3 linked regions of the Homo sapiens genome follow. The protein of the gene in region 1 interacts with the protein of each later gene in a pairwise test. Each region holds a gene or a part of one and is shown in the gene's direction. Other genes may lie near its edges.

What was found.
Region 2: the proteins of COP1 (region 1) and ETS1 interact in binary tests that used the Homo sapiens proteins (3 or more experiments, as listed by UniProt).
Region 3: the proteins of COP1 (region 1) and PCDH9 interact in a two-hybrid assay, tested with the Homo sapiens proteins (one large-scale study listed by BioGRID).

The regions. Positions count from the first base shown.
Region 1 is NC_000001.11:175,990,787-175,994,286, reverse strand, and holds part of COP1 (E3 ubiquitin-protein ligase COP1), read left to right. Parts: intron 1-3,500. UniProt on the Homo sapiens protein: E3 ubiquitin-protein ligase that mediates ubiquitination and subsequent proteasomal degradation of target proteins.
Region 2 is NC_000011.10:128,486,559-128,490,058, reverse strand, and holds part of ETS1 (protein C-ets-1), read left to right. Parts: intron 1-568; coding exon 569-769; intron 770-3,500. UniProt on the Homo sapiens protein: Transcription factor. Directly controls the expression of cytokine and chemokine genes in a wide variety of different cellular contexts. May control the differentiation, survival and proliferation of lymphoid cells.
Region 3 is NC_000013.11:67,223,837-67,227,336, reverse strand, and holds part of PCDH9 (protocadherin-9 isoform 1 precursor), read left to right. Parts: coding exon 1-1,932; coding exon of another isoform or gene 1,933-1,995; exon of another isoform or gene 1,996-2,149; coding exon of another isoform or gene 2,150-2,173; exon of another isoform or gene 2,174-3,500.

The DNA.
Region 1 (3,500 bases):
TTTGCAGTGGCTGGTATGGGTTGTTCCTTTCCATGTTTAGTGCTTCCTTCAGGAGCTCTTTTAGGGCAGGCCTGGTGGTGACAGATTCTCTCAGCATTTGTTTGTCTGTAAAGTATTTTATTTCTCCTTCACTTATGAAGCTTAGTTTGGCTGGATATGAAATTCTGGGTTGAAAATTCTTTTCTTTAGGAATGTTGAATATTGGCCCCCACTCTCTTCTGGCTTGTAGAGTTTCTGCCCAGAGATCCCCTCTTAGTCTGATGGGCTTCCCTTTGTGGTTAACCCGACCTTTCTCTCTGGCTGCCCTTAACATTTTTTCCTTCATTTCAACTTTGGTGAATCTGACAATTATGTGTCTTGGAGTTGCTCTTCTCGAGGAGTATCTTTGTGGCGTTCTCTATATTTCCTGAATCTGAAAGTTGGCCTGCCTTGCTAGATTGGGGAAGTTCTCCTGGATAATATCCTGCAGAGTGTTTTCCAACTTGGTTCCATTCTCCCCATCACTTTCAGGTACACCAATCAGACGTAGATTTGGTCTTTTCACATAGTCGCATATTTCTTGGAGGCTTTGCTCATTTCTTTTTATTCTTTTTTCTCTAAACTTCCCTTCTCGCTTCATTTCATTCATTTCATCTTCCATCACTGATACCCTTTCTTCCAGTTCATCTCATCGGCTCCTGAGGGTTCTGCATTCTTCACGTAGTTCTCGAGCCTTGGCTTTCAGCTCCATCAGCTCCTTTAAGCACTTCTCTGTATTGGTTATTCTAGTTATACATTCGTCTAAATTTTTTTCAAAGTTTTCAACTTCTTTGCCTTTGGTTTAAGTTTCCTCCTGTAGCTCAGAGTAGTTTGATCATCTGAAACCTTCTTCTCTCAACTCGTCAAAGCCATTCTCCATCCAGCTTTGTTCCGTTGCTGGTGAGGAGCTGCGTTCCTTTGGAGGAGGAGAGGCACTCTGCTTTTTAGAGTTTCCAGTTTTTCTGCTTTGTTTTTTCCCCATCTTTGTGGTTTTATCTACTTTTGGTCTTTGATGGTGGTGATATACAGATGGGTTTTTGGTGTGGATGTCCTTTCTGTTTGTTAGTTTTCCTTCTAACAGACAGGACCCTCAGCTGCAGGTCTGTTGTAGTTTGCTAGAGGTCCACTCCAGACCCTGTTTGCCTGGGTCCCAGCAGCGGTGGCTGCAGAACAGCGGCTTTTCGTGAACCGCAAGTCCTGTTCTCTGATCGTTCCTCTGGAAGTTTTGTCTCAGAGGAGTACCCGGCGGTGTGAGGTGTCAGTTTGCCCCTACTGGGTGGTGCCTCCTAGTTAGGCTGCTTGGGGGTCAGGGGTCAGGGACCCACTTGAGGAGGCAGTCTGCCCGTTCTCAGATCTCCAGCTGCATGCTGGGAGAACCACTGCTCTCTTCAAAGCTGTCAGACAGGGACATTTAAGTCTGCAGAGGTTACTGCTGTCTTTTTGTCTGTGCCTGCCCCCAGAGGTGGAGCCTACAGAGGCAGGCAGGCCTCCTTGAGCTGTGGTGGGCTCCATCCAGTTCGAGCTTCCCAGCTGCTTTGTTTACCTAAGCAAGCCTGGGCAATGGCAGGTGCCCCTCCCCCAGCCTCGCTGCCGCCTTGCAGTTTGATCTCAGACTGCTGTGCTTGCAGTCAGCGAGACTCCGTGGGCGTAGGACCCTCCGAGCCAGGTGCGGGATATAATCTCCTGGTCCGCCATTTTTTAAGCCTGTCGGTAAAGCGCAGTATTAGGGTGGGAGTGACCCAATTTTCCAGGTGCCGTCTGTCACTCCTTTCTTTGACTAGGAAAGGGAACTCCCTGACCCCTTGCGCTTCCCGAGTGAGGCAATGCCTCACCCTGCTTTGGCTCGCGCACGGTGCGCTGCACCCACTCTCCTGCACCCACTGTCTGGCACTCCCTAGTGAGATGAACCTGGTACCTCAGATGGAAATGCAAAATCACCCGTCTTCTGCGTCGCTCACTCTGGGAGCTGTAGACTGGAGCTGTTCCTATTTGGCCATCTTGCCTCCACCTCCCATTGTACATTTTTAAATAACTGAAAATGTATAATTAGATTGTAACACAAAGGATAAATGCTTGAGGTAGGTGCGCCATTCTCCATGATGTGATTATTATGCATTGCATGCCTGTATCAAAACATCTCATATTCCACATAAGTGTATATACCAACTATAATACTCAAAAAAAATTAAAAATGTTCAAAAAGTCTAGCACATACGATTACGTATACTACACAATACTTGATAAAGATAATAAATAACTATATACTTGTTTATTATTTACTTTTTACCATTATTATAGACTGTACTTCTTACACTTGTTTTTTTAAGTTACTATACAACAGCCTCAGGCAGGCCCTTCAGGAGACATTCCAGAAAAAGGTACTGTTATCAGAGAAGATGACATCTCTATGCATATCATTACCCTTGAAGACTTTTCAGTGAGACAAAACGTGGAGGTGAAAACAGTGATATTGATTATCCTGACCCTGTGTAGACCTAGGCTAACTTTCTGTTTCTTAGTTTTTAACAAAAAAGTTTAAAAAGCTTTTTCCTATTTTAATTTTTTAACTTATAAGGAAATGTAAAAAGGAAATACTTTTGTCCAGCTGTACAATGTATGTGTTTTAAGCTAAGTGTTATTACAAGAGTCAAAAAGCTTTAAAAATTTTTTAAGTTTATAAAGTCAGAAAATCACTGTAAGGTAAGGTTGATTTATTTCTGAAGGGAGAACACTTTTTTACAGTAAATTTAGTGTAGCCTAGGTATACTGTTAACGTCTTAGGCCTTCATGTTCATTTACCACTCACTAACTCACCCAAAACAATTTTCAGTCCTGCAAACTCCATTCATCATAAGTCCCCTGTATGGGTGTGTACCATTTTTTACCTTTTATATCTTATTTTTACTGTAGCTTTTCTATATTTAGATACGTAAATATTTACCATTGTTACAGTTTCCTACAGCATTCAGTACAGTAACATGATACATAGGTTTGTAGCATAGGAGCACAATAGGCTATTCCACATAACCTAAGTGTGTAGTAGTCTATACCATCTAGGTTTGTGAAAGTACACTGTATGCTCACACAGTGATGAAATTGCTGAATGATACATTTCTCAGAATGTATCTCCATTGTTAAGTATGTATTATTGTACTTACTGTTCAGCATCTCAAATCCAAAATCTGAAATGCTCCAATGAAGAAGCATTTGGAGCTTTGATTGAAATGTTGGCACTCCAAAAGCAAGGATTTGGGATTTTTTGATTTCAGATGTGCAACCTATTAATAATTATATTAAATGTAAGTATGTTGAATGTTGTAACATTCAGGGATTGGCAGAATGGGTTTACAAAAAAAAAAAAATTAGAATCCAGCTTTATGCTGTCTACAAGAGATAGACTTTAGATTCACAGACACAAATAGGTTAAAGTAACAGGATGGAAAAAGATATACCATGTAAGTAGTAGTCAAGAAAAATGGTAG
Region 2 (3,500 bases), on another chromosome or scaffold:
TTATGATAAGTACAGACTTTGCAGAGTATCTGGTATAATACAGGCACCTAATAATGTTATTACCAAGTGCCATTTGAATGAATGACTACTACTAATTGCTACAATTGTTACCACTATAATTGGCTAAGATAAAAAATAATCGAGAATAATAGTCTCAAGTATATTATAGTTAAGAGCAGGGAGAGGCATGAGCAATCTCTTGTTATTATTGCTATTAAAGAAGCCATTTGTTCTGTTCAGGGCTTTAAAAAAGTCCAATGGGAATAAGGCAGTGAGAGAGGAGATTCATGGAAATCTTTGCCTGCAAGGACAGAGAATACTCATGTGGTACTTTTTGGCTGGCAGTAGTGACCTCCTAGCTGGTGAAATAGAGAAGGCGGAGATGTTGAATATGGAGGGGAGGGTTATGGAAGGCACTCAATGATGTGCAGGCTAGGCTGATGCTTCCTCATTCGATGAATAAAGATAGCATTCTCAGCTAAATTCAGCTCCTTCAGTGTCCTCTCTGAGGCTTGGATAGGAGTTAAAAGCCCGACCTGCTGGATCTTCATCTGATCTCTTTCCTCAGACCCCCGGCAGTGGACAGAAACCCATGTTCGGGACTGGGTGATGTGGGCTGTGAATGAATTCAGCCTGAAAGGTGTAGACTTCCAGAAGTTCTGTATGAATGGAGCAGCCCTCTGCGCCCTGGGTAAAGACTGCTTTCTCGAGCTGGCCCCAGACTTTGTTGGGGACATCTTATGGGAACATCTAGAGATCCTGCAGAAAGGTAAATATGTGGAAACAGAGAGAGGTGGAGGTTATGTGGGGTTGCTGTGAGAGTAGGTAGGGGGCTCACCCAATGGTGGGACGTCAATGCCTTTATCTGTGGGTGTCCTACTGTAGGACGTATGTGGGAATGTGCCTAGTACACTGCTCAGCATACAGCAGGTACTCTTAGATGAGTGTAATTTCTTTTTCTTCTACATATTGGGGGTTCAGATATTAATCTTCAGCAAGATTGTACCACTGAAGCTTCTTGGATTGCAACATTCTAATCCAGGTCCTTATCTCAAACCCATGCCCTGGTTGAACAAGCAGTGCCCACAGCCAACCCAAGAATAGTTTTTGTTTTTGTTTTTGTTTTTGTTTTCTGCAATCTTAATACACACTGCCTTGATGCATGCCCCATAATACCTCATCACATCCCGGGAAAGCTTAGCGTCTGAGACCGTATTAATAAGACAGATTTCTCTGCCCACTAACTGAATTGGAATTGCAGTAGTGCATCATACCTTTTACATCTGGAGCAGGAACTGGGGTTATATCAGGACGCTATGTTGCAACCTTATAATGACATGGCCTCCCCTAACAGCCTCTTCCAACCTTTTTGGACCAAGTGACTCATGTACCACAGTCCTGGCTGAGTATAGAAACAGCAGCAGGCGGCAAACTTGGGTGTTTTTGTGCTTATTTTTTTGAATTTTTTCTTAAAATAAATTGCAGTTACCAGCAGTCAGCAGTGCCCTTCAGCTGACTGTAAGCCTAGAAGCCCATTGCCCTCTCTAACCCAGGCCCATCCTTTCCCTGTGGTCATCAGCTCTAACCCTTGGCACAGACGCTGGGGGAGGGGAGCAAAACTCAGGATTAGCACTTTTACCCCGCATTATACCTTCCTTTGGTTAAGAATATATTCCATTCTGCAGTGCTCAAGAGAGACCCAAACTAGATTTCTCTGTGCTCAAAAATGTTATCTTTATTCCTTCTTTTCACTTTCTGTTGAAAAATAAGACATAAAGGAATACAGGAAAGAACTAGGTGAGTCTTTCTGTGGCTGCTTTTACCGAGGATGGCAGGCAGTTGCAAAGCACCGGCATGTTCTCCATGCACAGACACCCACTCATAGGTGTTGACATGAGCGACCTGTTTATAGAGGGAAACGATACGGCAGGCTCCTAACAGATCTGATTTGACTGTTGACTTCTAAACACAATAGCAGATTCAATCAGACTGTGTAACCCAGTATATTCTACTAAGAGGCTGTTTTCCTCCATTTATCAAAATGGAGCTGCTAGGTGTTTTGGGCTATCTAAGCCCATCTCTGATTGTAGTTACAATTAATATCTCTATCATGTCTCCCTGTTTCCAAAGTGCTTTCAAATACATTTTCTCTTTGGATTATCAAAATAACTGTGAGATAGTAAGGACAAGTCCTATTATTGTCCTTGTCTGTAAAATGAAGCTCAGGGTAGGCGATTTCTTCAGTATCACTCATCTCCTTTTCTTCATTTTATTTCAACTTTCAGTATATTTTTATTTTATTTTATTTTATTTATTTTTTGAGACAGAGTCTTGCTCTGTCACCCAGGCTGGAGTGCAGTCGCGCGATGTCGGCTCACTGCAACCTTCGCCTCCTAGGTTCAAGCGATTCTCCTGCCTCACCCTCCTGAGTAGCTGGGACTACAGGCGCATGCCACCATGCCTAGCTAATTTTTGTATTTTTAGTAGAGTCAGGGCTTCACCGTGTTGGCCAGGATGGTCTTGATCCCTTGACCTCGTGATCTGCCCACCTTGGCCTCCCAAAACACTGGGATTACAGGCGTGAGCCACCGCGCCTGCCCTCAATATATTTTTATTTAACTTAAAATTTAACATCCCATCCTGTGCTTTTTGTATAATAATGTGGATTCACAGGGGCCTTCTGGCCGCTAAGACTGGTTTGGCCTCACTTAGGGTAAAGGAATAATGTAAGAAAATTTAAGAGAATTAGGATATAAGTCAGTATGTTTGAGAGCAAAAGTCATATCTTCCCACCCAATATTCTGTTGAGAGAGGCAGAAAGAATTCTCCCTCTTCAGGTTCAGTTACTTGAAGAGATGAGCATGATGTTTGTGCTGAGGCTACAGCTTTTGTTCTGTAATTAAAGCAACACAGCAGCAAAAGAACATAGCTGTTTGGGGTGGGGTGGAAGGTGAAAGGTACGGGGATGTTTCAATCTGATAAACTGCTAAAGCAAAGTTTAATCATTTTATCTCAACTGGGAACTGTTTTTCTGTGCAGGCATAAACTTGTTTTCCCATCAGACTTTGCTCCTAACAAGCTATCAAATACCTGAGGAAAAACCCAAACCCATACTCTATGTCAGATTCTTATGGTGAAATATAATCAGACTACTCCATACAAGAATCGGAGCCATGGCATTTGTTCCAGGGTAATTAGAGGATCCCAGGCTTACTGCAGGGTCGTTCAGAGCTTTCTGTCCGCAGGTGCACTTCGTCTCCCTTCCTCTCCTTTTCCTAGGGGAGTTGGCATCTGGGCAGGAGCTTGACTGGGTTGCTCTTCTCTCCCTTGACACAAGCGCAGTCGCATTTCACCAAATGGAGTCACCTTACCAGTGTCCTGCTTCTTGTCTGGGCCTGAACTTGAAACCTGAGGGCAATGGGAAAAATACAAAACAAAAACCAGACATCTGTTAGAGGAAATGGAGAACGTAAAATCTATGGCCTAAAGACTGCAATATA
Region 3 (3,500 bases), on another chromosome or scaffold:
GGCACCGTGTATTTATCTGAGAAAGATCCTGTCAATACAAAGATTGCCCTAATTACAGTTTCAGATAAGGACACAGATGTGAATGGCAAAGTGATCTGTTTTATTGAAAGAGAGGTCCCATTTCATTTGAAGGCGGTATATGACAACCAATATTTGTTAGAGACCTCTTCTTTGTTGGACTATGAGGGCACCAAAGAATTCAGCTTTAAAATTGTTGCCTCTGATTCTGGGAAGCCCAGTTTAAATCAGACTGCCCTGGTAAGGGTTAAGCTTGAGGATGAAAATGACAACCCACCAATTTTCAACCAGCCTGTAATTGAGCTGTCAGTTTCTGAAAACAACCGACGTGGGTTATACTTAACAACTATTAGTGCCACAGATGAAGACAGTGGGAAAAATGCAGACATTGTTTATCAGCTTGGACCGAATGCCTCCTTCTTTGATCTGGACCGAAAAACAGGAGTTTTGACAGCCTCCAGAGTATTTGACAGAGAAGAACAAGAACGATTCATTTTTACAGTAACTGCCAGGGACAATGGGACCCCTCCCCTCCAAAGCCAAGCGGCTGTGATTGTTACTGTTCTGGATGAGAATGACAATAGCCCCAAGTTTACTCATAATCATTTTCAATTTTTTGTGTCTGAGAATCTGCCAAAGTATAGTACTGTGGGGGTAATCACAGTGACAGATGCAGATGCTGGAGAGAATAAAGCTGTGACTCTTTCCATTCTAAATGACAATGATAATTTTGTGTTGGATCCCTATTCTGGAGTCATAAAGTCAAATGTCTCATTTGATAGAGAGCAGCAGAGTTCCTACACTTTTGATGTCAAAGCCACTGATGGAGGACAACCACCTCGTTCCTCTACTGCAAAAGTAACTATCAACGTCATGGATGTCAATGACAACAGCCCAGTTGTCATTTCTCCACCGTCTAATACTTCCTTTAAGTTGGTGCCCCTCTCAGCCATTCCTGGCTCCGTGGTAGCAGAAGTTTTTGCAGTGGATGTTGACACTGGAATGAACGCTGAACTAAAGTATACTATAGTGAGTGGAAACAATAAAGGCTTATTCCGGATTGATCCAGTAACAGGTAACATTACTCTGGAAGAAAAACCAGCACCTACTGATGTGGGATTGCATCGTTTGGTGGTCAACATAAGTGACCTGGGGTACCCTAAGTCTTTGCACACGCTTGTGCTTGTATTCCTTTATGTTAACGACACTGCTGGAAATGCCTCCTATATCTATGACTTGATCCGCAGGACTATGGAGACCCCGTTGGACAGGAACATAGGGGATAGTAGCCAACCCTATCAAAATGAGGACTATCTAACCATCATGATTGCCATCATCGCCGGTGCCATGGTGGTCATTGTTGTGATCTTCGTCACCGTTCTGGTGCGCTGTCGCCATGCATCAAGGTTCAAAGCAGCTCAGAGGAGCAAGCAAGGTGCCGAATGGATGTCCCCAAACCAGGAGAACAAGCAAAACAAGAAAAAGAAAAGAAAGAAAAGGAAGTCTCCCAAAAGCTCTCTTTTGAACTTTGTTACTATCGAAGAGTCCAAACCCGATGATGCAGTTCATGAACCTATCAATGGGACAATAAGCCTGCCGGCTGAACTGGAGGAGCAAAGTATAGGAAGATTTGACTGGGGCCCGGCACCTCCAACAACATTCAAGCCTAACAGTCCTGACCTGGCCAAGCACTACAAATCTGCTTCTCCACAGCCTGCTTTTCATCTCAAACCAGACACTCCAGTTTCCGTGAAAAAGCACCACGTGATTCAGGAACTCCCTTTGGACAACACCTTTGTTGGGGGTTGTGACACCCTTTCTAAACGCTCTTCCACTAGTTCAGATCACTTCAGTGCCTCAGAGTGCAGTTCCCAAGGAGGCTTCAAGACAAAGGGCCCCTTACACACCAGACAGGTAAACGAGCACTTTTACTGGTCTATAAGTACTGCATACAAGTGCCCAGTCAACCAGTATTAACGTGCCAGTATGTCTATTGTTTTGGTCTAACTTTAGCTTAGTTAGAAAGAGGTAAAAAAAAACTTGACCCCTTTTCTATTCCTCTGGGGCTCAGTCAAGAATTTTTAGAACAGCTTTGAAATTTCTGAGTTCTGAGAATATTTTCTCCTTTCAGTTTCCTTCAAATGGCAAAAGATGAAAAGAGAAAATTATTCCAAAATGTCCCAAGATAATGTTTGCTGAAGAAGAAAAAACCTGTCCTGATATGCCAAATTCTGCTCCTGGGGGTTTCCAAATTGACTGCTTCAAGACTTTCACCTTACCTTTTGATCTAAAAAGTCACCTTCAAATCTCAAGTTTTCAATGACTTTTGAAGGTGTGACTGCAATTATGTTGCAGCTATGGTTGCTAAAGGGGTTAATTTTTTTTTTAGTCTCTAAACAGGATAGTAGAATATTAAATGTACATCAGCTGTGAAGCACATGATCGTTGATAGATTGCAACTAAGCCATATAGGAAGTCTTCTCTTTGATTTCAAATTATTTTATTGTAATATATTAAATTCGGTACTTAATAGAAAGATTTTTAGTGTCCGCAGTGGCCAAATACTCTTTCAAAAAAAAAAAAAAAAAGAATGCTTGCTGCCTAATATAACTGATTTAAAAAGAAAAGAATGAATCCATTGTAAATATTCTCTCATCTTAGTAATGCATAAGTGATCTGTCATAACTCATTTTAAACTGTGAAATATGCCATATGAAGAGGGATTAAGAGGCTGAGAAACTCATATTTCAACCAAATCCAGAATTAGTTTTTCTTAGGTCTAATAATTCCTTGTTAATAAAGATTTAAATGCAGCGCTGTCTAATTTATTTCACTGGTGCTTGTCTGTTGCCACAAAATTTGAATATCGATAATAGCCTGTAGATGGCACTAGGGTATCATGTCGCTTGTGCTGGCCAGGTGCCAATCCCGCAGTAGCAAGGAGAAGGGGGAGGGAAGGATCAAGCTGGTAGTACAGCCAAAGATACCTTTTATTTAATGATAGTTGCTCTGGAGCAACTAGCATTTAAGTTCATTCGCTTGCTCTTTTGTGATTAGCTCTCAGCACACCAACTTTCTAGGATTTCGTAATGCTAGTTCTGTCTTTGTCGATATGGAGTTCACCTATGGTGATGGCCCATCTGTACTTGTTTATAAATAAGGAACACATAGATTTTAGAAAATCAAGTAAAGCAAAATTAGTTTGCAGAACAGTATCAACAGTTATCATTGATTAGTCTTTGGAGAATCAAGAGTTTTTATTTTCTGAGGGTGGGGTGAAGTAGGATGTTTTATTGAAACAGTTTCCCCCTTACCAACTATCATTTATTGCTCTGGAAGGACTTAAGGCTTCATGGTAATAAAATATTTATAAGAGTAATTTTGACAATGAGTCATACAGATACTCCCAGAACATCAAGTATAATACATATTACCATACAACTAAAATCTCCATTCTTAAAGTAAAATATTAAACAGTAGAG